7 linked regions of the Homo sapiens genome follow. The protein of the gene in region 4 interacts with the protein of the main gene of each other region in a pairwise test. Each region holds a gene or a part of one and is shown on either strand. Other genes may lie near its edges.

The links.
Region 1: the proteins of ZNF620 (region 4) and USP20 interact in binary tests that used the Homo sapiens proteins (3 or more experiments, as listed by UniProt).
Region 2: the proteins of ZNF620 (region 4) and TRIM50 interact in binary tests that used the Homo sapiens proteins (3 or more experiments, as listed by UniProt).
Region 3: the proteins of ZNF620 (region 4) and TSR2 interact in binary tests that used the Homo sapiens proteins (3 or more experiments, as listed by UniProt).
Region 5: the proteins of ZNF620 (region 4) and KCTD9 interact in binary tests that used the Homo sapiens proteins (3 or more experiments, as listed by UniProt).
Region 6: the proteins of ZNF620 (region 4) and EEF2KMT interact in binary tests that used the Homo sapiens proteins (3 or more experiments, as listed by UniProt).
Region 7: the proteins of ZNF620 (region 4) and NME7 interact in binary tests that used the Homo sapiens proteins (3 or more experiments, as listed by UniProt).

Annotation. Positions count from the first base shown.
Region 1 is NC_000009.12:129,876,958-129,880,457, reverse strand, and holds part of USP20 (ubiquitin carboxyl-terminal hydrolase 20), read right to left. Parts: intron 2,121-3,500; coding exon 2,018-2,120; intron 886-2,017; coding exon 814-885; intron 346-813; coding exon 185-345; 3' UTR 169-184; exon of another isoform or gene 1-168.
Region 2 is NC_000007.14:73,318,083-73,321,582, reverse strand, and holds part of TRIM50 (E3 ubiquitin-protein ligase TRIM50), read left to right. Parts: intron 1-1,340; coding exon 1,341-1,436; intron 1,437-2,508; exon of another isoform or gene 2,509-2,530; coding exon 2,531-2,761; intron 2,762-2,873; coding exon 2,874-2,896; intron 2,897-3,500. UniProt on the Homo sapiens protein: E3 ubiquitin-protein ligase that ubiquitinates Beclin-1/BECN1 in a 'Lys-63'-dependent manner enhancing its binding to ULK1. In turn, promotes starvation-induced autophagy activation.
Region 3 is NC_000023.11:54,445,968-54,448,532, forward strand, and holds the end of TSR2 (pre-rRNA-processing protein TSR2 homolog), read left to right. Parts: 3' UTR 1-141; coding exon of another isoform or gene 142-447; 3' UTR 448-1,343; coding exon of another isoform or gene 1,344-1,487; 3' UTR 1,488-2,065; downstream 2,066-2,565. Other genes in the region: FGD1 (FYVE, RhoGEF and PH domain-containing protein 1), read right to left, coding at 142-447, 1,344-1,487. UniProt on the Homo sapiens protein: May be involved in 20S pre-rRNA processing.
Region 4 is NC_000003.12:40,512,539-40,516,038, forward strand, and holds part of ZNF620 (zinc finger protein 620), read left to right. Parts: intron 1-3,321; coding exon 3,322-3,500. UniProt on the Homo sapiens protein: May be involved in transcriptional regulation.
Region 5 is NC_000008.11:25,430,934-25,434,433, reverse strand, and holds part of KCTD9 (BTB/POZ domain-containing protein KCTD9), read left to right. Parts: intron 1-998; coding exon 999-1,104; intron 1,105-1,780; coding exon of another isoform or gene 1,781-1,796; coding exon 1,797-1,930; intron 1,931-3,500. UniProt on the Homo sapiens protein: Substrate-specific adapter of a BCR (BTB-CUL3-RBX1) E3 ubiquitin-protein ligase complex, which mediates the ubiquitination of target proteins, leading to their degradation by the proteasome.
Region 6 is NC_000016.10:5,087,796-5,091,295, forward strand, and holds part of EEF2KMT (protein-lysine N-methyltransferase EEF2KMT), read right to left. Parts: intron 2,771-3,500; coding exon 2,637-2,770; intron 2,555-2,636; coding exon 2,289-2,554; intron 1,462-2,288; coding exon 1,312-1,461; intron 1-1,311. UniProt on the Homo sapiens protein: Catalyzes the trimethylation of eukaryotic elongation factor 2 (EEF2) on 'Lys-525'.
Region 7 is NC_000001.11:169,298,298-169,301,797, reverse strand, and holds part of NME7 (nucleoside diphosphate kinase homolog 7), read left to right. Parts: intron 1-3,034; coding exon 3,035-3,242; intron 3,243-3,500. UniProt on the Homo sapiens protein: Possesses an intrinsic kinase activity. Displays 3'-5' exonuclease activity with a preference for single-stranded DNA. Does not seem to have nucleoside diphosphate kinase activity.

The sequences.
Region 1 (3,500 bases), on a different chromosome or scaffold from region 4:
CACGGGCACTCAGCAGTGGGGCCGGGCCATGTCCAGGGCCCTCCCACATCCTCCAGGAAGGTGCTTTCAGGGACCTGCTCTTTGGATGTTCAAAAGGACATGTGAGGGTCTCTGGAGAGTGAGGAGAGGACCCAGAGTGCCATGGAGGGACCAGCCGGGGCGACTTACAGACTAGCCCAGCAGATCACACGGCCCGCGTCTCGGCTTCGATCTTCTGCTCCCCGTGCAGGTTCTCTGGGCCCAGCGGCTGCGCCACACTCTGGCGGATGGCAATCTCGGGGCCACCTCCATACAGGCTGTTCAGGTAGGTCCAGGTCTCCTCCGAAATCTGCCCGTAGTCAGCTCCTGCAGGGCACGAGAGGCACCCCTAGGCTCACCTTTGCCTCCTCAAGGAAGCCACCGGCCTGGGCAGTGGGGGCTCCGCAGGGCCAGGCCCCGAAGCGGGAAGACGGCAACCAGGGCTTCTATGCAAAGCTGTCAGATGGAAATCAGGATTTCCCAGAGGAATGTCCATCCCGCTAAGGGCCCCGGATAACACATCTCTGGCTGTGTCCCTTGTTCCTGGGGGTGGGGCTGACATAAACAGCAGGGTGGGCAAGGCCAGCAGCAGGCAGAGGGGTGGGACCTGGAGGACACAAGCAGAGACCAAGCCCCTTGGGCCATCTCTCAGCCGCCTGGGTCTGGACTCAGGTGGACGTCTCAGCCTGACTCTAAGACAGGTGGTAAGGGGGCTCCTGGAAGGACGGGACTGGGCAGCAGCCTGGCAGCCAGGAAGGGCAGAGAGGAGCCTGGCTGACCCCAGGGGGAACTCACCCTGCTTCAGCTGGACATGGCCGCTTCCTTTGACCTGTGCAATCCTGCTGTTGTCAATGGGCCCGGGGGGCTCTGCAACAGACACAGCGGGCTCGGGTTCAGCCCCTGCCATGCCCTCCACCCTCCACAGCAGCAGAGCCATCCCAAGTGGGGCCGCCCCAGGCCTGGGGGTCAGCGTGAAGTCTCTAATGGATGAGGCGCCTGAGCCACCCAATGCTCCTCTGTGGCAGTCTGAGGACCCAGCAGAGGGAATTTCCAGGACACACGAGATGGTCTCAGACTCTGTGCTGGCCGCAGGAGCTGCGGTGGATGGCCCATGCCCTTATCTCTGCTGGCAGCTGCCGCTCACCACGCCCCTTCCCCTCTGCCCAGCTATCTCATTTAGCCTCGGCAACCACAGGACAAGACAGAGGTTTACAGAGACAGAGCCGAGGCCTGGGAAGGTGAAGTAACCACTCAGGTCATAGCTGGTAGAAGGCAAGGCCAGCGTCCAGGCCAGGGCGAGGGCTCCGGAGCTACATTCTCAACCACAGCCATGCTGAAGGCCTCAGCCACCACCAGAGAGGCCTCACGGTGGCCCTGGCACCTTCCCCGACTAGCGGGATGGCAATGAGGCCTCCCTTCCCAAGCACAGGTGGGTGCTCATGCTCCACACCAAGGGTCCCGTGAGCAGAACCGTGGGCTCTACCCACCCTGCCGGGCCCCGGAGCCACAGGTTAGATTATGCCCCGAGGGCGCCCCAGCCGAAATTTTTAATGCAGGTTTAATAGTTTAGAGCCTGTGGGCTTCCATGGCTTGGTTCTGCTGTTCTTCACTGGGGACTTGGGGGACCCTGGGAGCTTGTGATGGGGCCTGTCTCCACCTCTGTAAATCCAAGGAGTCAGATGACAAATCTGTCATTTCGGGCGACACACTCCCCTGAGGAAAGGGCCTTGCAGGAGGGCAGAGCAGCTTGCTGGGCATGGCAGGGAGTGGAGAAGGGCAGGGGGCGCAGAGCAGGAGCAGCTTCCTGCCTCTGGGTGGGGACAGTGATCCCCACTGGGGACTGGCAAAGCCCCATGCTCTCTGTTCACCCTGGATGGGTGGCACCTGGGGGCAGGCATGGGGCCTGCAGGAGCCCCTGTGTGCCAGCCCTCCCCTGCCAGCATCCCATCTCCCAGGAGGCCCCCAGGGCAGGTAAGTGCCAGGTCCCCCCTCAGCTCACCGTTGTCCTTCCCCTTGACGAACGCCTCCCACTCCCGGAACCACTGCATGCTGATGCAGTAGATGACGCCCGGCGACTCCTCGGCCTGGAAGGCCTTGTTCAACTGGCAGGCGGGCAGGGACGGGAGGAGACAGAGGGCAGGTCAGTCTCTATTTACCTTCAGCAAGGATTTCCCAAATGCCCCCGCCCCAGTCCCTCACCCAAGAGTCTTACAAAAACACCAGATACTCAAGGTGAAAAATCAAACCCCCAGACAAGCTCAAACAAAATGAACACACCCATCACTCAGAGAGGACGGTGGTAACATTTTGTGGGTCTCTTCAATAACTGTTTGACCCAACTGAGACCACAAGGGAGATTCTACTTTTTGAGAAGGAATCTCACTCTGTCACCCAGGCTGGAGTGCAGTGGCGCGATCTCGGCTTACTGCAACCTCTGCCTCCCAGGTTCAAGCGATTCTCCCACCTCAGCCTCTTGAGTAGCTGGGATTACAGGTGTGTGCCACCACCTGGCTACTTTTTGTGTTTTTAGTAGAGACGGGGTTTCGCCATGTTGGCCAGGCTGGTCTTGAACTCCTGACCTCAGGTGATCCGCCCACCTCGACCTCTCAAAAGTGCTGGGATAACAGGCATGAACCACTGCGCCCGGCCTGGGAGATGCTAATTTTCTCCGGTTGAATAGAATGTGCCTATCTGCTCAGAGAGGCAGCTCTCCTTCTGACAGGAGCATTTTCTTTTTCGAGATGGGGGGTGGTCTCACTCTGTGCCCAGGCGGGAGTGCAGCGGCGCAATCATGGCTCACTGCAGCCTTGACCTCCTGGGCTCAAGTGATCCTCCCACCTCAGCCTCCTGAGTAGGTTGGACCACAGGTGCATACCACTAGGCCCAGCCCTGACAGTCTCTTTTTCGTTTGTGTTCTGAGACAGGGTCTCACTCTATTGCCCAGGCTGCGGTGCAGTGGCATGATCACGGCTCACTGCAGCCTCAACCTCCCAGGCTTAGGTGATCCTCCCAACTCACTCAGCCCTCCAGGTAGCGGGGACTACAGGTACACATCACCATGCCTGGCTAATTTTTGTATTGTTTGTAGAGATGGGGTTTCGCCATGTTGGCCAAGTTGGTCTTGAACTCCTGGGCTCAAGTGATCCACCTGCCTCGGCCTCCCAAAGTGCTGGGATCACAGGCGTGAGCCACCATGCCCAGGCAGCAGAATCATTTCCTAATGGCCACAAAGCACGGGCGTCCCTCAGTGTCTCTCACCAGGCCCTCCCTGTGAGTGGAACACGTCCTAACCCTGTTAGAAGTAGCGTGGCAGGGAGGGAGTGCGCCAGGAGCCTCGCCTGCACTCAGCTCCCTCACAGAAGTCCCTCTTCTAAACACAGTCACACTTGAGTCCTGGTTTGCACCTTGGTTTTCACTTCCTGCTTTATCTTGGGCAGTCTGTAGAGCCCAGTGGTTCTCACCCAGGGCAGGGAGGGTACTCT
Region 2 (3,500 bases), on a different chromosome or scaffold from region 4:
CCGGGCAGTCCAGGAGAAGTGCATTTATGTCAGCTTGGGGAGGTCGCAAATCCGTGCTGTGTCCAAGCCCACCAGGAATGGATTCAGGTGTTTATGGGTGTGGGGATTCACCAGGTTTAACCCAGGCCCGTGTGAGCACCACTGGCCCTAGAATTAGCCTCACCTGGCGCCGGCCTTTTTGTGATGGCTCCTGATTAAATACCCACTAATTCTGGATCTGCTGGTGACCACAGAGTTCACCTGATGGGTCCCCTACAGGCAGCATTCAATCCAGGAAGTGCCAGCATCACATGGTGACTTCTGGTAGCTGTAACGTTTAGTGACTCTCTCCATGTCATGCAGAGGGGTGACATTGAGACCCTCTTATGCCTGGGAAGTTCCTGCTGTCAATGCAGAATATTCTTTAAAAAAAAATTAGAGATGGGATCTCACTGTGTTGCCCAGGCTGGTCTCAAACTCCTATCCTCAAGTGATTCTCCCACCTTGGCCTCCTAAAATGCTGGGATTACAGGCACGAGCCATTGTGCCCAGCCTAGAATATTCCTTTTTTTTTTTTTTGAGACGGAGTTTCACTCTTGTTGCCCAGGCTGGAGTGCAATGGCGCGATCTTGGCTCACTACAACCTCTGCCTCCCAGGTTCAAGCAATTCTCCTGCCTCAGCCTCCCGAGTAGCTGGGATTACAGGCATGCACCACCACGCCTGGCTAATTTTGTATTTTTAGTAGAGACAGGGTTTCTCCATGTTGAGGCTGGTCTCGAATTCCTGACCTCAGGTGATCCACTCGCCTCGGCCTCCCAAAATGCTGGGAGTACAGGCGTGAGCCACTGCGCCCAGCCTAGAATATTCTTGAATTAATTTATCTTATTTTTTATTTTTATTTTTTTGAGACAGAGTCTCACTGTGTCACCCAGGCTGGAGTGCAGTGGCATGATCTTGGCTCACTGCAACCTCCACCTCCCAGATTCAAGCGATTCTCGTGCCTTAGCCTCCCAAGTAGCTGGGACTACAGGTGTATGCCACCACGCCTGGCTAATTTTTGTATTTTTAATAGAAATGGGGTTTCACTATGTTGGCCAGGCTAGTCTCGAACTCCTGACCTCAAGTGAAGTCCCACCTCAGTCTCCCAAAGTGCTGGAATTACAGGCGTGAGCTTCTGCGCCCAGACTATTCTCGAACAATTTAACCTGTTTTGGACTCAAGGGTACCTGGGTGGCTCTGGTTCCCGCCCTGGTTTCCCTGGGAGTGCTTGTGGCCATTGGGATACTCCCAAGAAGGTGATCCAAGGAGCTGAGAAGGGGAGGGATCAGCTGCTCATGGGGCCATGGCCTGTTGCCTCCAGGAGGAGCTCGCAGCCCTCATCTCTGAGCTGAAGCAGGAGCAGAAAAAGGTGGATGAGCTCATCGCCAAACTGGTGAACAACCGGACCCGAATCGTCGTGAGTGCCCCTTCCCTCTGCCCCTGCCTGGGACCGGCCACCTTCACTTTCCTGTAGAACTCAGTTCTCATTGGTCCTTTACAGAAAACCATGCCTTCCATATAAAGCCAGAACTCAAAGCATTCCCAGGGCGGGGTGGGGAAAGCGCAAATCCTCTCAGGGGAATTCAACCCAGTTGTCGTTAGGACTGGCTCCAAGTTGGCTTTTGCCCTCTGTGTCCTTGAGACTGAGATAACCCAGGACTTGAGTCTCAGGGGGTAAACAGCTCAAAGCATGGGCATGACTCCTCCGCCCCTGTGCCACCTGTGTCTGCTTGACCTTGCCAGCCTGTCATGGTGCCCTCCCAGTACCTGGGTGCTCAGGCGTGGAGAGGCTGGCAGCCCTGGGCCCTGGCTGATCTCCCGAAGTGAGAGGCACATGGGGCTGGGAGCCATAGTGCCCCGGCCCTGGAGGTGGCTGTGAAACAGAAACAGGAGCCGGGCAAGATCCAGGAGCACTCAGCCTCCCTCATTTACCCTCCTCACCCTTGCGCGGCAGGCGGTACCAGCCCTGCCTGGTGGAGGCGGAGCTCAGGGTTCTGCAGGGAGTTCTGGCTCCCTCACAGCAAAGCCTGCTCGCCTAGGGCCTTCCTGCTTTCCTTCAGTTGTGGAACTCTGGGATATGCACATTTAATAGCTGAAATAGGCAAAGTGGGGTGTGGTGGCGTGCATCTGTAATCCCAGCAACTCGGGAGGCTGAGGCGGGAGGATTGCTTGAGGCTGGGAGGTCAAGGCTACAGTGAGCTATGATCATGCCACTGTGCTCCAGCCTGGGCAACAGAGTGAGACCCTGTCTCTTAAAAAAAAAAATTAAAACAGGCCAAAACAGAGCCTCTCCATTTGAAACGGGAGCTGGGGTCACCCTCCCCACGGCCACCGCCAGGGCTCCCCATGCATGGGGTGAACTCCCTGCCCGGCGCCAGGCCATGCAGCCTCCCCTGAGACTCAGGTCCCAGGACCAACCCGGTCAGGAAGGCCCTGGGGACACCGAGGCCAGCCAGACAGAGCCTGGCAGCTCGGCTGTGACTCTGCAGTGACCAGCCCTCCCTGTCCCAGAATGAGTCGGATGTCTTCAGCTGGGTGATCCGCCGCGAGTTCCAGGAGCTGCACCACCTGGTGGATGAGGAGAAGGCCCGCTGCCTGGAGGGGATAGGGGGTCACACCCGTGGCCTGGTGGCCTCCCTGGACATGCAGCTGGAGCAGGCCCAGGGAACCCGGGAGCGGCTGGCCCAAGCCGAGTGTGTGCTGGAACAGTTCGGCAATGAGGACCACCACAAGTTCATCCGGGTGAGTGGACAGGGAGGCGTCCCATCCCCATACCCGCCAGGGCCTTCCCCTTCCCAACAGTGCCCTAGCTTCCCACCTTCTAGCCTTAACCTCCCTCTCTCTTGCCTTCCAGAAGTTCCACTCCATGGCCTCCAGGTAATAACCTTGGAGAGAGCTCAGCCAGGGTCTGGTGGCTGCGGGCACGGGCATCTCAGCTCCACTGGTTCCTCCATTCGGTTTAACCAGCGCCTCCCAAGCAGCTGCCCACAGCTGGCTCTATAACTGAGCCTGGGAAAAACAGAGGAAAGTCATGTCCCTGCCTTCAAGGGTCTCGTAGATGGGTGGGGAGGCAGATGGTGAACTGTGGGTACCTAGAACAGCAGAAGTTCACTCAAGCTACAGAAATACTAGAGGAGGGTAGCTCATGCCTGCAATCCCAGTACTTTGGGAAGCCAAGGCAGGAGGATTGCTTGAGGCCAGGAGTTCGAGACCAGCCTGGCCAATGTAGTAAGACCCCATCTCTACAAAAAATACAAAAATAAAAAAATTAGTTGGGCATGGTGTCATGTGCCTATAGTCCCCGCTACTCATGAGGCTGAGGCGGGAGGATTGCTTGAGCCCAGAAGTTTGATGCTGCAGTGAGTCGTGACCATGCTACTGCATGATCCAGCCTGGGTGACGGAGCGAGACCCTGTCTCAGAAAACAAAACAGAATGCTAGAGGAGGAGCAGGTGTCTGGGGGACCTGGCAGAGGGGCACA
Region 3 (2,565 bases), on a different chromosome or scaffold from region 4:
CAAGACCCAGCATTCGGGATTGAAAGTGCCCGTGATGGGAGTTCAAGTATTGACTGAGCTGGGAGGGAAGGGGCTAGAGCCCCCAATCAGACATGGGCAACTAGAGTGTGGGGTGGGGGCTCCCAGTTTGTCCCAAACCCTCTAGGTCTTGTCTCGGGTCTGGGGGGATTCGGGGGGTTCAGCAGTGGCTCCTAAAGCAGCCACCGGTGCCTCCTCCATCTCCCTGTCCTCAGACAGTGTGGGCCCCGGGCAGAACGTGTCCCCTCGGCCCGCCCGGCCAAGCACAGCCATCCAGCGTCGCTGTAGTTCCTCTGTCTCAGGGCTGAAGTACCAGCTGAGGTGGCTCTGGGTGATCTTGAAGACATGCCTTCTGTCAGGCCGCTCCCCTGCCTCGGGCGGTCCCACCTCGAAGCCAATGAGGGGCAGGCTGCGCTGGGCTTTCACATCCTGGCGGGAGGAGGGACAGAGCTGGGGCCACCTTGGGGCTAGACCTTTCCCCCGCCCCAGCTTCTAACTGGTTTTGCATATGCTCTGTCTTCAGTCCCCTACTCAGGAACTCCCCTACTCAGGAACCTTCCGTGGCTCCAGTGTTATCAACAGGAACATGTCAGAACTGGGGCTAAAATGCAGGCTGGTTTAAATACCTGTCTCCCCCCACCCCCGCCTCTTCTCACAAAACTGCTGGGCTAGTCTCTTTAGCATACCAAATAATGTTTTCAGGCCTTTGTCTATGCTATTGCCCCTATCTGCATACTTTTTTTTTTTTTTTTTTTTGAGACAGAGTCTTGCCCTGTTGCCCAGGCTGGAGTGCAGTGGCATGAACTTGGCTCACTGCAACCTCTACCTCCCAGGTTCAAGCAATTCTCCTGCCTCAGCTTCCTGAGTAGCTGGGACTACAGGCACACGTCACCACGCCAGGCTAATTTTTGTATTTTTAGTAGAGACGGGGTTTCACCATGTTGGCCAGGCTGGTCTTGAACTCCTGATCTCAGGTGAGCCACCTGCCTCGGCCTCTCAGAGTGCTGGGATTACAGGCGTGAGCCACTGCGCTCGGTCCCATCTGCATACTCTTACCCACTCCAAATTGGACCTAGCAGTTCCCCATCTCTACTCCTTCCAGGAAGCCAGGCCCACAACTCATCCTGGTTTTCCCTACATACCACAACCACTCCTTGTCTCTAGCCAGTCTTTGTCTCTCAAGGGTTGGGGTTCTGATTTCCTCTTAGAGATAGGCTCACCTTATCTTCCAAGGCTCACCTTATCTTCCAAGGCCAAGGAGAGGTCAAGGACTGGATCTGGCTTTGCCAGGTGGCTGAAAGGACCCGAAGGAGTAGGATGCATACCTGAGGGGCTCCGTAGATATACAGCACCAAGGGTTCATTTTCAGGGACCACGAACCATGCCTTGTGCCATCCTTTGCCACCCTTCTCCATGTAGTGCAGGAAGCTGCAGATGACGCTGTTCTCTGCAGCCACTGAGGCCTGTTTCTGTGGCCAGAGACACCGGGCATCAATGTTGACAGAAGGCCTAGCCTGGCTCCTCCTAGCTTTAATACCTCCTCAGTGTAGGGACTGCTATTCCTATCTCAGATGAAGACGCTCAAGCTCAGGTGGCAGGAGTGATTTGTCCAGTGCCACCCAGTGAATCAGCTAGAGCTGAGATTCAAAGCTAGGTTCGTCTGCCTCATTTGGGCAACGGCTGCTGCCTCTACAGGCCAGTGGAAGGAGTGTGCGGATCTCAGGCATTCTTTCTTCAGTCAGAGCATTCATTCCTCAAGCCATTCACACATTTAGGCCTCATGCTTTTTTCTGTCTTTCATCACATCCATTTCCTACACTCATTGAGAGGTAATCTAGCATTGTGGTTTTAAGGGGGTATGTGGGTGGTTAATGAAGTCTGGCTTAGAATCCCAGCTCTAGATGAAAATGTATTGACTTGGAGAGCAAAGAGAGCTGATGTGAGAATTAAATGAATTAATATATGCAAAGTGCTTAGAATAGTTCCTGGCACAGAGTAAGTACTCTTTTAAGTGTTAAATAAATACCTAGATTTGTTTTTAAAAAAATCTCCAAAATGTGTGTTTGTGCATATATGCCTAGAAAGATAGGATAAGCCCTCACAATGGTAACTTTTGGGTAGAAGGGATACGGTATTTTATTATTTTTTGTTTATATTGGTCTACTTATCCTACTTTGTAATAACAAAAGACAATTTTTAAATTTTTTTTTTTTTTTTGAGACGGAGTTTTGCTGTTGTTGCCCAGGCTGGAGTACAATGGCGCGATCTTGGCTCACCGCAACCTCTGCTTCCCAGGTTCAAGCGATTTGCCTGCCTCAGCCCTCCCAAGTAGCTGGGATTGCAGGCGTGCGCCACCATGCCTGGCTAATTTTGTGTTTTTAGTAGAGATGGGGTTTCTCCACATTGGTCAGGCTGGTCCTGAACTCCCGACCTCCGGTGATTCACCCGCCTCAGCCTCCCAAAGTGCTGGGATTACAGGCATGAGCCACTGTGCCCAGCCAATTTTTTAATTTTAAAAAAATCCAGTGCTGCCACTCATTTGCTGTG
Region 4 (3,500 bases):
GCCTTTTTGGCTTGGCTTGCTTTCTTGTTTTCACATTTCATTGTGCAAGAAGTGTTTCTTCTCTTGGGAGACTGTTTTTGTTCCTGTGGAATCATTACATGTGATTCTCTGAGTTCATGGTGGTAGCCTACCTCAACTGGGGAAGGGCCAGTCTCTTTTAAGACAGGAATGACTGTAAGATTTCTTTGCATATTCGTCTTTGCCTGTCCTCCTCACAACCTGCCAAGGGAGACTGTCTGATTGGGCAGCACTTAAACCAGCTCATTTCTTCTCTGTCACATGAAAACATTTTATTTTTCTGCCAGTTTGTTTTTGCAAAGATGAGGATGTCAGCCACCTTTGGAGGAAAATAGGCTTCTGGCAACATGGCTGGCCATCTGCATATCATAGGCTACATTGTTTAAGCACTGACTTAAAGAATAAAAAGTTTGTTTTTATAATGGAAATTTTCAAATATATGCAAACACCAGCATAATGCACTCCATGTATCCTTCATCCAGCTTCAACAGTCACAAATATCCTTTGATTCTTATTTCATCTTTCCCCCACAGATACTTAAAAAAATTTCTGAAGCAAAATTTATTGTAAATTAAAGGTGAATAACTTTCTCACTTCGATGGCTATTGATATAAGAATTAAAAATAGGCTGGGCATGGTGGCTCATACCTGTAATCTCAGCATTTTGGGAGGCTGAGGCAGGTGGATCACTTGAGGCCAGGAGTTCAAGACCAGCTTGGCCAACATGACGAAACCCCGTCTCAACTAAAAAAAAAAAAAAATATATATATATATATATATATATATATATATATATATGGCCAGGTGTGGTGGTTCATGCCTGTAATCCCAGCACTTTGGGAGACCGAGGTGGGTGGATCACCTGAGGTCAGGAGTTCGAGACCAGCCTGGCCAACATGGTGAAACTCCATCGCTACTAAAAATACAAAATATTAGCATGGACGTGGTAGCACGTGCCTGTAATCCTAGCTACTCAGGAGGCGGAGGCAGGAGAATCGGTTGAACCTGGGGAGTGGAGGTCGTAGTGAGCTGAGATCATACCATTGCACTCCAGCCTGTGGGCAGCAAGCCACCCAGGTGCCAAGGCAAGAGACTGAGGGCACAAGCTGTTCCAGTATAATAAAGAAAATATATAGAATAAGAATAATTATGCTAGAAATAGATTATAGATATGATTATATATTAATATTATTAATCATTAGTTTGTAGCATTACTCTTTATTCCAATATTATAATAATCTCTGTTCTACAATTATAACCTAGGAAAAACCAGGCCATACAGAGATAGGAGCTGAAGGGACACTGTGAGAAGTGACCAGAAGACAAGAGTGTGAGCACTCTGTCAAGCCGGGACAGGGCCACCAGAGGGCTCCTTGGTCTAGCGGTAATGCCAGTGCCTGGGAGGGCACCCCTTACTTAGCAGACCTTGGTCTAGCGGTAGCGCCAGTGCCTGGGAAGGCACCCGTTACTTAGCAGACCGGGAAAGGGAGTCTCCCTTTCCCCGGGGGAGTTAGAGAAGACTGCTCCACCACCTCTTGTGGAAGGCCTGACATCAGTCAGGCCCACCCGCAGCCATCCGGAGGCCTAACCATCTCCCTGTTGATGCTGTGCTTCAGTGGTCACGCTCCTGGTCCACTTTCATGTTCTGCCCTGTACACCTGGCTCTGCCTTCTAGAAGAAATAATGATGTAAGCTGTCCCCTCTCTCTCTCCGCCTCGGCTACCAAATAGGGAAGGGCCCCCTGTCTGGTGGACATGTGACTCGTGTGACCTTACCTATCATTGGAGATGACTCTCACTCCATACCCTGCCCCTTTGCCTTGTACATAATCAATAACAGCACGGCCAGGCATTCAGGGCCACTACCAGTCTCCGCATCTTGGTGGTAGTGGTTCCCTGGGCCCAGCTGTCTTTTCTTCTATCTCTTTGTCTTGTGTCTTTATTTCTACCATCTCTCGTCTCTGCACATGAGGAGAAAAACCCAGAGGCCCAGTAGGGCTGGACCCTACACCAGCCTGAGTGACAGAGCGAGACTCTGTCTCAAAAAAAACCCAAAAACATCAAAAATTAGCTGGGTATGGTGGTGTGCACCTGTAGTACCAGCTCCTGGGGAGGCTGAAGCATGAGAATCACTTGAACCCAGGAGGTGGAGGTTGCAGTGAGCCAAGATTGCACCACCACACTCCAGCCTGGGTGACACAGCGAGACTCTATCTCAAAAATAAATAAATACATAAAACATAGTATATTTTTTAATCTTTCTTATTCTGCTTCACCCATTCTCTGCCTGTGAAAATTTTCTGTGCTCTTCTGCAGAGAATGCCCATTACTGATCCACCCCCAAGTCTTGAGTTTAAGTTGTACCTTTCTGGATGTGACCTCAGGACCCTACGTCATCTGAGTAAAAATATTTTCTGAACAATTTTTTGTGAATGCATGCAGGCTGAAGATTTTACTTAGTCTGCAAAAGGTTTTGATAGTGGAGGGAATATTTCTCTTTGGTTTTCCCTTATTATCATGTGAGTTTAGTAGTTCACTTTTCAAACTGTTGTATTAAACAAATGCACAACCTATGAGACCTTTTAGGAAAAATGGCAAGCATCGTTACCAGGCCCTCTTTGGGACTTACATTCACTCTTGGAAGAGTTCTTCACATTTCCAGTGCTTTTTGGTTTTAAAGGCAAGCCTCCAAACCTTCCTTTCTCCTGGATGCTGTGGTGGTTGCCATGCATGGCATCCTCAACCACTGCATGGGAGCCTGCTGCTTTACTAGAGCCAGCTTGATGGTAGAGATCAGCTCTCTTTTCAAGGTTATGACATGCATGATGTCTTTTAACAAGCATCTCTTAAGGAATCTCAGCCTGTGGGACCTGTTGTAGTGCTTGAACTGCTCAGCCTGCCCCTTCTCTAATCTTGGGAGTCTTCCTCTCACTTATGGATTTCCATTTGTTACTTTTTTTATGTTTGCATCTTTATCCACCTCATTCATTTTTCTCTTAGTCTTTCTGCCCTAATTAACAGTCTTTGCAGTTTTCTGGTTTTCACACTGTTTATGGGAATGCCTCCTGGCCTTGCTTCCCTCCCGTCTCATAGAGTTTTCATGTCCCTTGCAGGGCTCTGTTGTGTGGTGATCTTAGGCAGCCATCTTGTGAGCATATTAGAAAATATCCATATATTCAGGGCAAATTAGAACCACTTGATTCTGTTTCTTCTTCAGCACAGATATTGTGTGTGTGTGTGTGTGTGTGTGTGTGTGTGTGTGTGTGATATCAGGGACTGACATTTGTATTTTCTTTTTGTGATAGGGGATGAGGCCAGAACTGAGAAGGAAGGATTAACTCCAAAGGATCATGTGTCCAAAGAAACAGAGTCCTTCAGACTGATGGTGGGGGGCCTGCCAGGGAATGTTTCCCAGCACCTTGACTTTGGGAGCAGCCTAGAGCAGCCACAAGGTCATTGGATAATTAAGACAAAGTCAAAGAGG
Region 5 (3,500 bases), on a different chromosome or scaffold from region 4:
TCAAAAACGCTTTGAGATAAATGAACATAATTTAAAACTCTTGGCTGCGTGTGGTGGATCATGCCTGTAAACCCAGCACTTTGGGGAGCAGAGGCAGGCAGATCACTTGAGGTCAAGACCATCTTAGCCAACATGGCGAAACCCCGTCTCTACTAAAAATACAAAAATTAGCCAGGCGTGGTGGTGCATGCCTGTAATTCAAGCTACTCAGGAGGCTGAGGCACGAGAATCACTTGAACTTGGGAGGCAGAGATTGCAGTGAGCTGAGACAGCACCACTGCACTCCATCCTGGGTGACGGAGTGAGACTTTGTCTCAAACAAAACAAAACAAAAAAATAAAGTCTTAAAACATATATTTTCTACCATTTTACTCTCTGCCCTGCATTATGCATTGTGATGTGCCTGCTCAGGGTTAATAATGTTTAGCCATGGTTGGTGCAGAAAGACCCAGCCAGCATCTTGTTAGTGTTTTCTAGCTAAATAATGCCTTTAAATGCTGGCTTTTGTATTCTGACCTCTGACTTGAGGGCAGTAGTAGCATCTTAGAATATCAAGAATTTCACTTAGAACATCAAGATTCCTACAGTAATAAGAAAATCCATACCCCTAACAAGTCTATGCCTTCCTTACCCATACATTTTGACTGTTTCATTGTCATGCATAGGTATGTTTATAAAAATAGAGATAGAGGTGTCAGAGTTCTGACTCACCCAACTTCTTTATCTAAACCGTTATGTTTCATGTAAAATGAGCATGCTATTGTTAATTTGCATTTATTTTTTAAAAAACAGTTCTTTAAAAAAATTTTTCTTTCAAATGTTCCCAGTTCTTACTGTATTTAATTAGAAAAGCCTTTATTGTAAACAGAAAATAAAATTGAGTATGAGTGTTTTGAGTTGAGCCTTTCCCTCTTTTCTATTTTTTTTCTTTTACTGTTTGAGCTAATTTGAACAAAATTATGAACCTTACAACCAGGACTTTTCTCTTTTCTTTGCAGTGTGCGAATCTCCAGGGAGTCAAGATGCTCTGTTCTAATGCAGAAGGAGCATCCCTGAAACTGTGTAATTTTGAGGATCCTTCTGGTCTTAAAGCCAATTTAGAAGGTGAGATCCTTTCTGTAAATACCTATTCTACGAAGGAAGCAGACTGTAAAGGAAAAAAGCCCTGGAAAATAATTGTTAAGGGTGAAACAGGATAGCTGTAGGGGATAGGTTTCTTCTGTCATCATATTTGGAGAACTTCCAAAGTGGTAAGAAACCTCCATTTGGTTTCAGTCAAATGCTAATCAAAATTGAGGACTCAGAAAAAATAAAACCTCAAATATTTAATAAGGTTTTAGTTGGAAAATTAAATATCAACATCTTAAACTTTCAAATGGAATAAAATATTCTTACACTGACCAAAAGGAAAAATTTCATTTGCATAAAGCCAGGGAGTTTTTAAAAATCATTTTTAGATTTAATGTATTGTTTCTTAATTTGTTACTATCTGTGACTGATCACTTTGTTTACTTGTATATTTAGGAGACTACTTCACTCCCTTATCATAAACCTGTAGAGGCATATTATGAAAGTGCTAACTATCATAAGACAGAACTAAATTTCTTCCCTCAAAAGTATTGTGAAAGCATTCTTTCATCAGTAAACTGTTTATATATATAAGTTCGTTGAGAGACAAGATTTTAGATTAATTTCCAAAAGTTAAAAGAGGCCTCCATTAAGTCATCTTGCAGTTCTGTTGAAGGTAGATAACTATATTTTTAAGTTAAACTACTCCCAGAATGTGTTCACTGTAGGTGCTAATCTGAAAGGTGTGGATATGGAAGGAAGTCAGATGACAGGAATTAACCTGAGAGTGGCTACCTTAAAAAATGCAAAGTTGAAGAACTGTAACCTCAGAGGAGCAACTCTGGCAGGAACTGATTTAGAGGTGAGTTCACCAACACTTTAAGAATTTTTATTACTCTAGACTTACTAAGCATCTCATGCAAAATTTATTGAAATCAAAACAAAGTAGTTGGCTGGTAAAACTGGATTGGAAGACTCATCTGACATTCAGTCTAAGTTGATTTCATTTCTCTCCTTTTCCTTGAGTTTTTCTCAAGTAAATAAGTTTGATAGATGTGTTATCTAATGTATTGCATTTTCCATAAAATTTAATTCCGAATAGAATTAAATGGGCTAGATTACTTCTTAAACTACTTGAGAAATTTAAATGATATCCAGGTTTGAAATCAGGTTCAGGAAAAGTCTATTTGAAATTGGAACCATATGTTTTTTGGTTTTCAGCTTGAGATTATAATTTTGCCTGGTCATCTTTTTCAAAGAATTATATTTGTATGTCTTCTTAATTTGCCAGTTTAGCTAGCAGACTTGATAGCTGTTGATAGGTCTATATCAGCACTATCCAATAGCACTTTGTGCAGGAGGGACATGTTCTATATCTGTGCTGTTCAGTATAGTAGCTACCACCCATATATAGCTATTGAGCGCTTGAGATTTGGCTAGTGCAAATGAGAAATTGATTTTTAAATTTTATTTAATTTTAATTCATTTAAATTTAAGTAGCCACATGTGGCTGGTAGCTATGAAATCTGGTATAAATTGGATAGCAGAGAACGGTATGTCAAAATTTAGCTTGCTGTTAATGTTTTTTCATAATATTTTTGCCTAGATATCTTGATAGCTCTCGGTAGCAGAGTAGCAGGCCCCTTTCAACTTCAAGGCAAAAAGAATTGGCCTAAGTATAATCCTATCACGAGCACAATTATTTATTGTTTGTTACATTACTTTCACCTAAGATTATATTTTTTTCCTTGGTTTTAGTACTGTGTACTCAGTGTGGCCTAGCAGCAAAAGCCTCCCTCTCTCTGATTGCAAAGACTGATCAGGTTGACTATTGAGGGGAGAGCTGCTGACATTTGTTCTCCTAACAGGTTACGTTTAGTCACCCTTCTCTCTAACCATTGTCCCCTATCATATCCAGGGACTTAAGTGGAATCTCTATCTTATTGCTCCGTGATCTCAAGACAAATTAAGAAATAGCTTCAAATTGCGGTGGTTACACTGTTCTGTACATCTGTCAAACTCACTGTATTATATACGTACCTTTGGGGCTTTAAAAAGAAGGGCAGTTCCTTGCTATAAAAATACTAGGGCTAGGGAATGGAAAAATCTATTACACAATTTGATTAAGTAAAATCTTTTCAGATTAAAAAAAAAGTCTTCCCCCCATCTCATTCCTTTTGTTGTTGTTGTTCTTGGATCATAGTAAAATTGTTTTGATAATATTTATTACTTTGGGGCCAGGCGCAGTGGCTCATGCCTGTAACCCCAGCATTTTGGGAGGCCAAGGTGGGCGAATCACTTGAGGTTAGGAGTTTGAGACCAGCCTGGCCAACATGGTGAAACCCCGTCTCTACTAAAAATAGAAAAAATTAGCCAGGCGTGGTGGTGAGTGCCTGTAACCCCAGCTACTCTGGAAGCTGAGGCAGGAGAAT
Region 6 (3,500 bases), on a different chromosome or scaffold from region 4:
GTCTCAAAAAAAAAAAAAAAAAAAAAGGTGGGTGGGGGCTTATACTATGTGTGCTGCTTGGCACTGTTTTTTTCACTTAAAATATATTGCAGGTTTTTTTTCACGTAAGTATCTGAAGAAAGACTTCCTTTTTTTTTTTTTATTTTTTATTTCTTTGCTTTTTTGAGACAGGGTCTTGCTCTGTTGCCCAGGCTGGAGTGCAGTGGTGAGATCAGGGCTCACTGCAGCCTCCATCTCCTGGGCTCAAGCCATCCTCCCACCTCAGCCTCCTGAGTAGCTGGGACTACAGGCGTGTGCAACCACATCTGGCTAGCTTCTGTATGTTTTGTGAAGATGGGGTCCCACTATGTGGCCCAGGTTGGTCTTGAACACCTGGGGTCAAGTAGTCCTCTTGCCTTAGCCTCCTAAAGTGCTGGGATGACAGGCCTGAGCCCTGCGCCCGGCCAGCCTCCTGTGCGAGGTTGTGGGGGGACTCTGTCGTGGAACCCAGTACGTCTTCGTGTGCTGGCTTGTTTGTTGGCTCTGTAGTTAACGGGCTGCCCCACGTGGACAGGCACTGGGTTGTCTGTGTCTCTGTGTGCAGGCAGAGGCTGCTGCATGTGCATCTGTGCACATGGCTGCCAGGAGGGGCTGTGCTCAGGGGGAGCTGGGGCAAAGGCTGGTGGCACTGGGGGGCTTGGGTGTAGTGTGGAGGCGTGAGAGCCAGGTGGCTGGGGTGCAGTCTGCGGGAGCTCGGGGGTCTCTTGGCCTCCGTGTGTCCTAGTGTCTTTGTTGGTGAGATGGGACAGTGACAGCACACCCTCACAGTTGCTGGGGGCTGACAAATGTCAGGTCTGAGGACAGTTGCTGGCCCACTATGGGGCCAGTTCCCCTTCTCTACAGTCACCCTGCTCGTCTTCCACCGACTGGGTGCTCAGGACAGTGGCGTGGTGGATCCGCCTGTACATCCTGTGCTCCAGCGTCCTGCAGGCCACAGCTGTGTCCAGCCCTGACCCCGACTGCCCCTCCCGCCACCTCCATTTTATAGATGAGGAAACCGAGGCCCAAGGGCTTAGGGAACCCTGCTCTGAAGCACACAGTAGGGCTGCTGGGCTCAGACCCTCCCTCCCTGTGCTGAGCTGCCCTCCTCCTGCCGCAAGCCCCCCACGCCCCAAGCCCACCCTGCTCACTGGCCTCTGCCTGAGTTCCCCCCATGGTGTGGGAGTGTGGGGCAACCTAGCTTTTCCCCGGCACCCAGTTCTTTCACTTCCACTGGCGTCCTGCAGGGACAGCTCAGGGACCATGCAGGCCCGGGTGGGCGTGGAGGCTCACCTAGCTCGGTGGTGAACAGCTGGCACGTCTCTGGGTTGCGGACGGTAAAGGCCACGTAGACCTCAGGAGCCCGCTGGTGCTCCCGGCAGGCAGCCAGCCTCCGCAGGACCCCGACCAGCGACATGATGGCTTCTGGGCAATACAGCACATCTATGGTGAAAGCTTCAGGTTACTGAAAGGGACCAGTGGACAGGTCCAGGTCATGCTGACGTCAGCAGCAGGGCGAGGCCAGAGAGGCAGCGGTCATATGAGACTAGTAGATGCCATTTGACCATTTGGGCCATTAGATGGAAAGGCAATTACTTGGGTGAAAAAGGAGAACCCTTAGTAGAGAAAGCTGCAAAAGACCGAAGCAAAAGAAAAAAATCTCCAGACTCACTGGTGTTCCTTAAAAAACCAGCTCTGGTTCTTGGCCTATCTAGAGGGCTTTGAATGACACAAAGCCTGACCCTGCCATGAACTTCATGTTTCAGGCATCTGCTGATTTGTCTGCTGGCTTGCAGGGGTGGGCTTGTGTCCCTGGCCACCGCTGGACCTGTGGGTTTCAGGGCTGGGACCTAGGACCACAGGCAGAGCTCTGTTCCACCAGAGAGGGGACTGAGTGTGCTGGCAGGGGTGAGGGGTTTTCGGTGGCCCAGCCAAACACCACCTTCTCTCAAGGGCCCTGTCTTCGTCCCAGAAGTGGTTGTTTTCCTCCTGTGGTCTCTGAAGGACACAGGGCATGGCTCTGGGACAGAGCCATGTGGTAACGACTGGAACGGGAGTATGCCTGTCTCCAAAAAGAGGGCTGTGGGTTGAAGGTCACCTTAAGAGGCACCCCTGTCCTGTGATGTCACCCTGGAGGCCCAGAGTAACTCTTCTGGAAGCCCCATCATGTCCATGCCCGACAGCGTCCATTGTTCCCTTTTCCCAGAGCCAAGAGCTGGGTAGAGCTGCAAGGACACCACCTGCACAGGGTGCCCGGGGCTGGGCATTACCTGCTGCAATGACAACATCTGGCTGGAAGGCAGAGAGCTGATGGACCGTCGCGACGTCCCAGTCCAGCTGGGCCACTGTCACCCTGGGGCTGTCTAACTTGGCAGTGATGTCTGCCTCTAATGAGAGGCCATTGAGAAGGACATTCCCTCGGAGCTGCTCAAGGACCCGGCTGTGACAGTCGCTGAAGATGTATGCCCGGGGGCGGCACATCTTGCAGATGGCCAGGCCTGTGAGGCCAGCACCACTGCCAAGCTCTAGGACAGTCCTGGCGGGAGGAAAGGGGACCGTGTCTGCGACTGCACCAGGGTAAGCCTGCCTCGGTGCCCTGCCCTGCGCCCCGAGGTCACCTGTTAGTGAAGACTGCCGGGTTCTCGATGGCCCATTCTGCAAGGTAGAGGGCGGCGTCCCATGTGACCAGGCCTGTGGTACCGTAGGAGATGATGGCCGTGCTCTCGGAGAGTGTGACCGAGCCTCCCGAGGGCTGCACCAAGAGAAGGCGAGAGAGTCAGTCCAGCGATCAGAAGGCAAGTGGCTTAGAAGACAAGTAGCCCCACCACATGGCTGAATAAACCATGACAGGACCAATCGCCACTCAGCAATGAGAAGCAGCTAACTGTTGGCATGCCAACAGCTTTCACGGGCCTCAAGGGTGTCACGCGGTGTGAAAGACACTCATCTCAGGCCACACAGGATTCCATTCATCGAACCTTCCTGAGACAACGGAATTCTGGCGATGGAACACATGTCAGTGGTGGCCAGGGGACAGGTGTGGCTATGAAGGGGTGGCTGCCTTGTGATGATTCAATATGCTGTTTTTCCTTTGTGGTTTTCTGTATCTATGTTTTATCTTATTTTTTTTTGAGCTCTGTCACCCAGGCTGGAGTCAGTGGCACGATCTTGGCTCACTGCAACCTCTGCCTCCTGGGTTCAAGCAATTCTCCTGCCTCAGCCGCCCAGGTAGCTGCGAATACAGGCGTGTGCCACCATGTCCGGCTACTTTTTGTACTTTTTTTTGAGACAGAGATTTGCTCTCGTTGCCCAGGCTGGAGTGCAATAGCATGATCTTGGCTCACTACAACCTCCACCTCCTGGGTTGAAGAGATTCTCCTGCCTCAGCCTCCCTAGTAGCTGGGATTACAGGTGCCCACTACCACACCCCGCTAATTTTTGTATTTTTAGTAAAGATGGAGTTTCACCATGTTGGCCAGGCT
Region 7 (3,500 bases), on a different chromosome or scaffold from region 4:
GATTATGGCCTCCAATTGTGTCCATATTATTGCCAAGGACATAATTTTATTTTTTTATGGCTGTGTAGAATTCTGTGTTATATATATATACCACATTTTCTTTATCCAATCTGCCACTGATGGGCACTTGAGTTATTTCCATGTATTTGCTATTGTGAATAGCACAGCAATGAGTGTATGAGGGCATGTGTCTTTTTGGCAGAATTTCTTTTCTTTTGGGTATATACCCAGTAATGGAATTGCTAGGTTAAATGGTAGCTCTGTTTTAAGTTCTTTGAGAAATATCCACACTGCTTTCCACAATGGCTGGAGTAATTAATATTCCCACCAACCGTGTATAAGCATTCTCTTTCCTCTATAGTCTTGCCAGCATGTTATTTTTTGACTTTTTAATAATAACCATTCTGACTGGTGTGAAATGGTATCTCATTGTGGTTTTGATTTGCATTTCTCCGATGATTAGTGATATTGAGCGTTTTTTCGTATGCTTATTGGCTGCTTGTATGTTCTTTTGAGAAGTGTGTATTTATGTCTTTTGCTCTTTTTTTAGTGGGGTTGTTTCATGCTTGTTTGATTATTTAAGGTCGTTACAGATTCTGCATATTAGTCCTTTGTTGAATGCATAGTTTGTGAATATTTTCTCTCATTCTGTGGATTGTCTTTTTACTCTGTTGCTAGTGCAGAAGCTTTCTGTGCAGAAGCTCTTTAGTCCCACTCGTCAATTTTTGTTTTCGTTGCCATTACTTTTGAGGACTTAGTCATAAATTCTTTCCCCAGGCCAATGTCCAGAATGGTGTTTCCTAGGTTTTCTTCTAGGATTCTTATAGTTTGAGGTCTTACTTTTAAATCTTTAATCCATCTTGAGTAAAGTTTTGTATATGGTTAATGTTAAGGGGCCAGTTTCTTTCTTCTGCTTATGGCTAGACAGGTATCCCAGCACCATTTATTGAATAGAGAATCCTTTCTCCATTGCTTATTTTTGTTGACTTTGTCAAAGTTCAGATGGCTGTAGATGTGTGGCTTTATTTCTGGGTTCTCTATTATGTTCCAGTGATCTATGTGTCTGTTTTTGTACCAGTACCATGATGTTTTGGTTACTGTAGCCTGTTGTACTTTTAAACTATTTTGGTAGTCTTGTATACATAAAGCAATGTTCATGGAACCTTTCTATTTTAACTAGTTTGATATATATTTTGTTCCTTGACATAGAACAGATAATATATGTTACACTTTATGTATTCTAAATATTTGACATGTAATTAAATTTAAGTGAATATTTTGCATGCTCATATTATTATTACTGTTGCCAAAGACTGTTTACACTTCTAATAAGAAAGAATGTTACATCAGCCAAACTAAATGGCCACAGTAGACATGTTATTTGATATCCTGCACTGAGTAGTGGGTTTTTAAAAAAATTTGTATGTAAGAAAATTATTATGCTATAGATTATTTCAAATCAAGTGTTATAAAATATTCCTAAGCCTTCTTAGAATAGCTATATACACTTTTCTAGAAAATTGGTGGAAATTATCTTTTGGTATAAACTTTGTATATGTTTATAGCATTAACTTACAACTCCTAGTCTAATGATTTATGTGTGATTTGCATGCAGTAAATTTTATTAAAGGAATGAATTAACTAGTTGCCTGTTAATGAGAATGATGTAACAAAAGACTAGGTGAAGTAATTAAATTTTCATGAAGCAGTATCTATGATCAGGCACATCCTTCCCTATATTGTTACATGCCATATTCATAGGCTTATTCAATTGTGTGTTTTGAGAATTTTGTATTAATAGGGCGTTAGATTGTAAGTGTCTTGAAGGGGGATCTTTTTTGTGGCACAGACGCTGATATGTTATAGGCAATTATTAAATGCTTATTGAGTGAATAAACATGGTTTGCTCCTTTGATTTGGGTTTTTTTAAATCTAGTGGTTGGTCTTGGGGGTTTTGTTTGTTTTGGCAGCAAAGGTCTGGCAGAAAATGTATGAGGAGGTATTATAGAACTCTTAGGATAGAAGACAAGAATACTTTTTTGTACATGCTGTTTTTTAGAAATATTCTTCAAAATGAATGGGAGTGTTTTAAAAAGGAAGTACTGAGGGGAGCTGACATATAACATGCAGGGTGGAAGGAAGTGTGTAAAAAATAGTCATAAGTTAGTGGGCACAAAAGAGCCTGTCACACCATGCTCCTTTCTCCAGGAGGATCTCTTCTCTCTACTTTGGATGAGAGAAAACCATGGGCTTACTCTAAAAAGTACTGTGTCCCTGCTTAATATAGTCAGAGGGAGGATGTCACTTATTTCATAGTTAAACTTGTCATTGCATCCTGTACACATATAAAAGTAGAAAATAAAATGAAGTATTGTCTTTTATACCTTGGGGGACTGTGACTCAGTGCTGGATTTTTAGTCAAGAACCGATGCGTACACTTTAATAATTTAATACAGAAATAACCCAGAGTAGTTTTTACGCTAATAAAAGGATATTTCTTGAAGCCTGCTGGGGATTTTTTTTTTTATCACCAAACCAGCTCAGTGTTTATTGATTAAGAGAGTTCTTTGTCAGTCTTTGAATTCTAATAGTTTTACACAAAAATAAATAAATTCTTACTAAAAATATGTTACAAGGCATCCATCCCTATATATTGTGAAATTGTACTTGACTGCAGTGGTAAACACATGTAAATAAAAAGGAAAATCCTCTGTACCTGTTAGAGCACTGGGAAAAGCATAGGTCAACAGTATGCATTTTAAGTCATGAAATAGTCTTAATTCAACAGAACAGTGATTTTTCTGGTAACAGTAATTTGACATTACTAGTGATTTGAAGTGAATTGAGCCACTGCAAGACACTCAATTTATGAAAAATTTCTCCTGCCCATGTAAAATTAACTATGCTTAATGGTTCTAAGATTATAATATTCATGTCTATGTTGAAATAATCCAATTTAAATATATCCTGTCGTTAAGACAAATACCTAGTTGACAGAAAAAAGAAGCAAACTAATCTTCTATCTGTTTTGTAGTGAGCTGATCCAGTTTATTACAACTGGTCCTATTATTGCCATGGAGATTTTAAGAGATGATGCTATATGTGAATGGAAAAGACTGCTGGGACCTGCAAACTCTGGAGTGGCACGCACAGATGCTTCTGAAAGCATTAGAGCCCTCTTTGGAACAGATGGCATAAGAAATGCAGCGCATGGCCCTGATTCTTTTGCTTCTGCGGCCAGAGTAAGGTGTTTTAAAAATATTTTAATGCTCTTCTAGTTCTGTTAAATGTTTTATATCAAAGGAAAGCATTTCTATCACTGGTGACTTAGGGTGGATTTATGCTGCTGCTCTAGTAGTAGAGAAAACCTTTGACATCTTGCCTACTATCAAACAGTGATTCAGTGTGTCTCCTTTGTGAACTGGTAACCTGATCATGATCAACGTAAGTTTTCTCCAATTAAAACACTTCTCATCCTGTTTCTTGTTCCCAAGACTTAA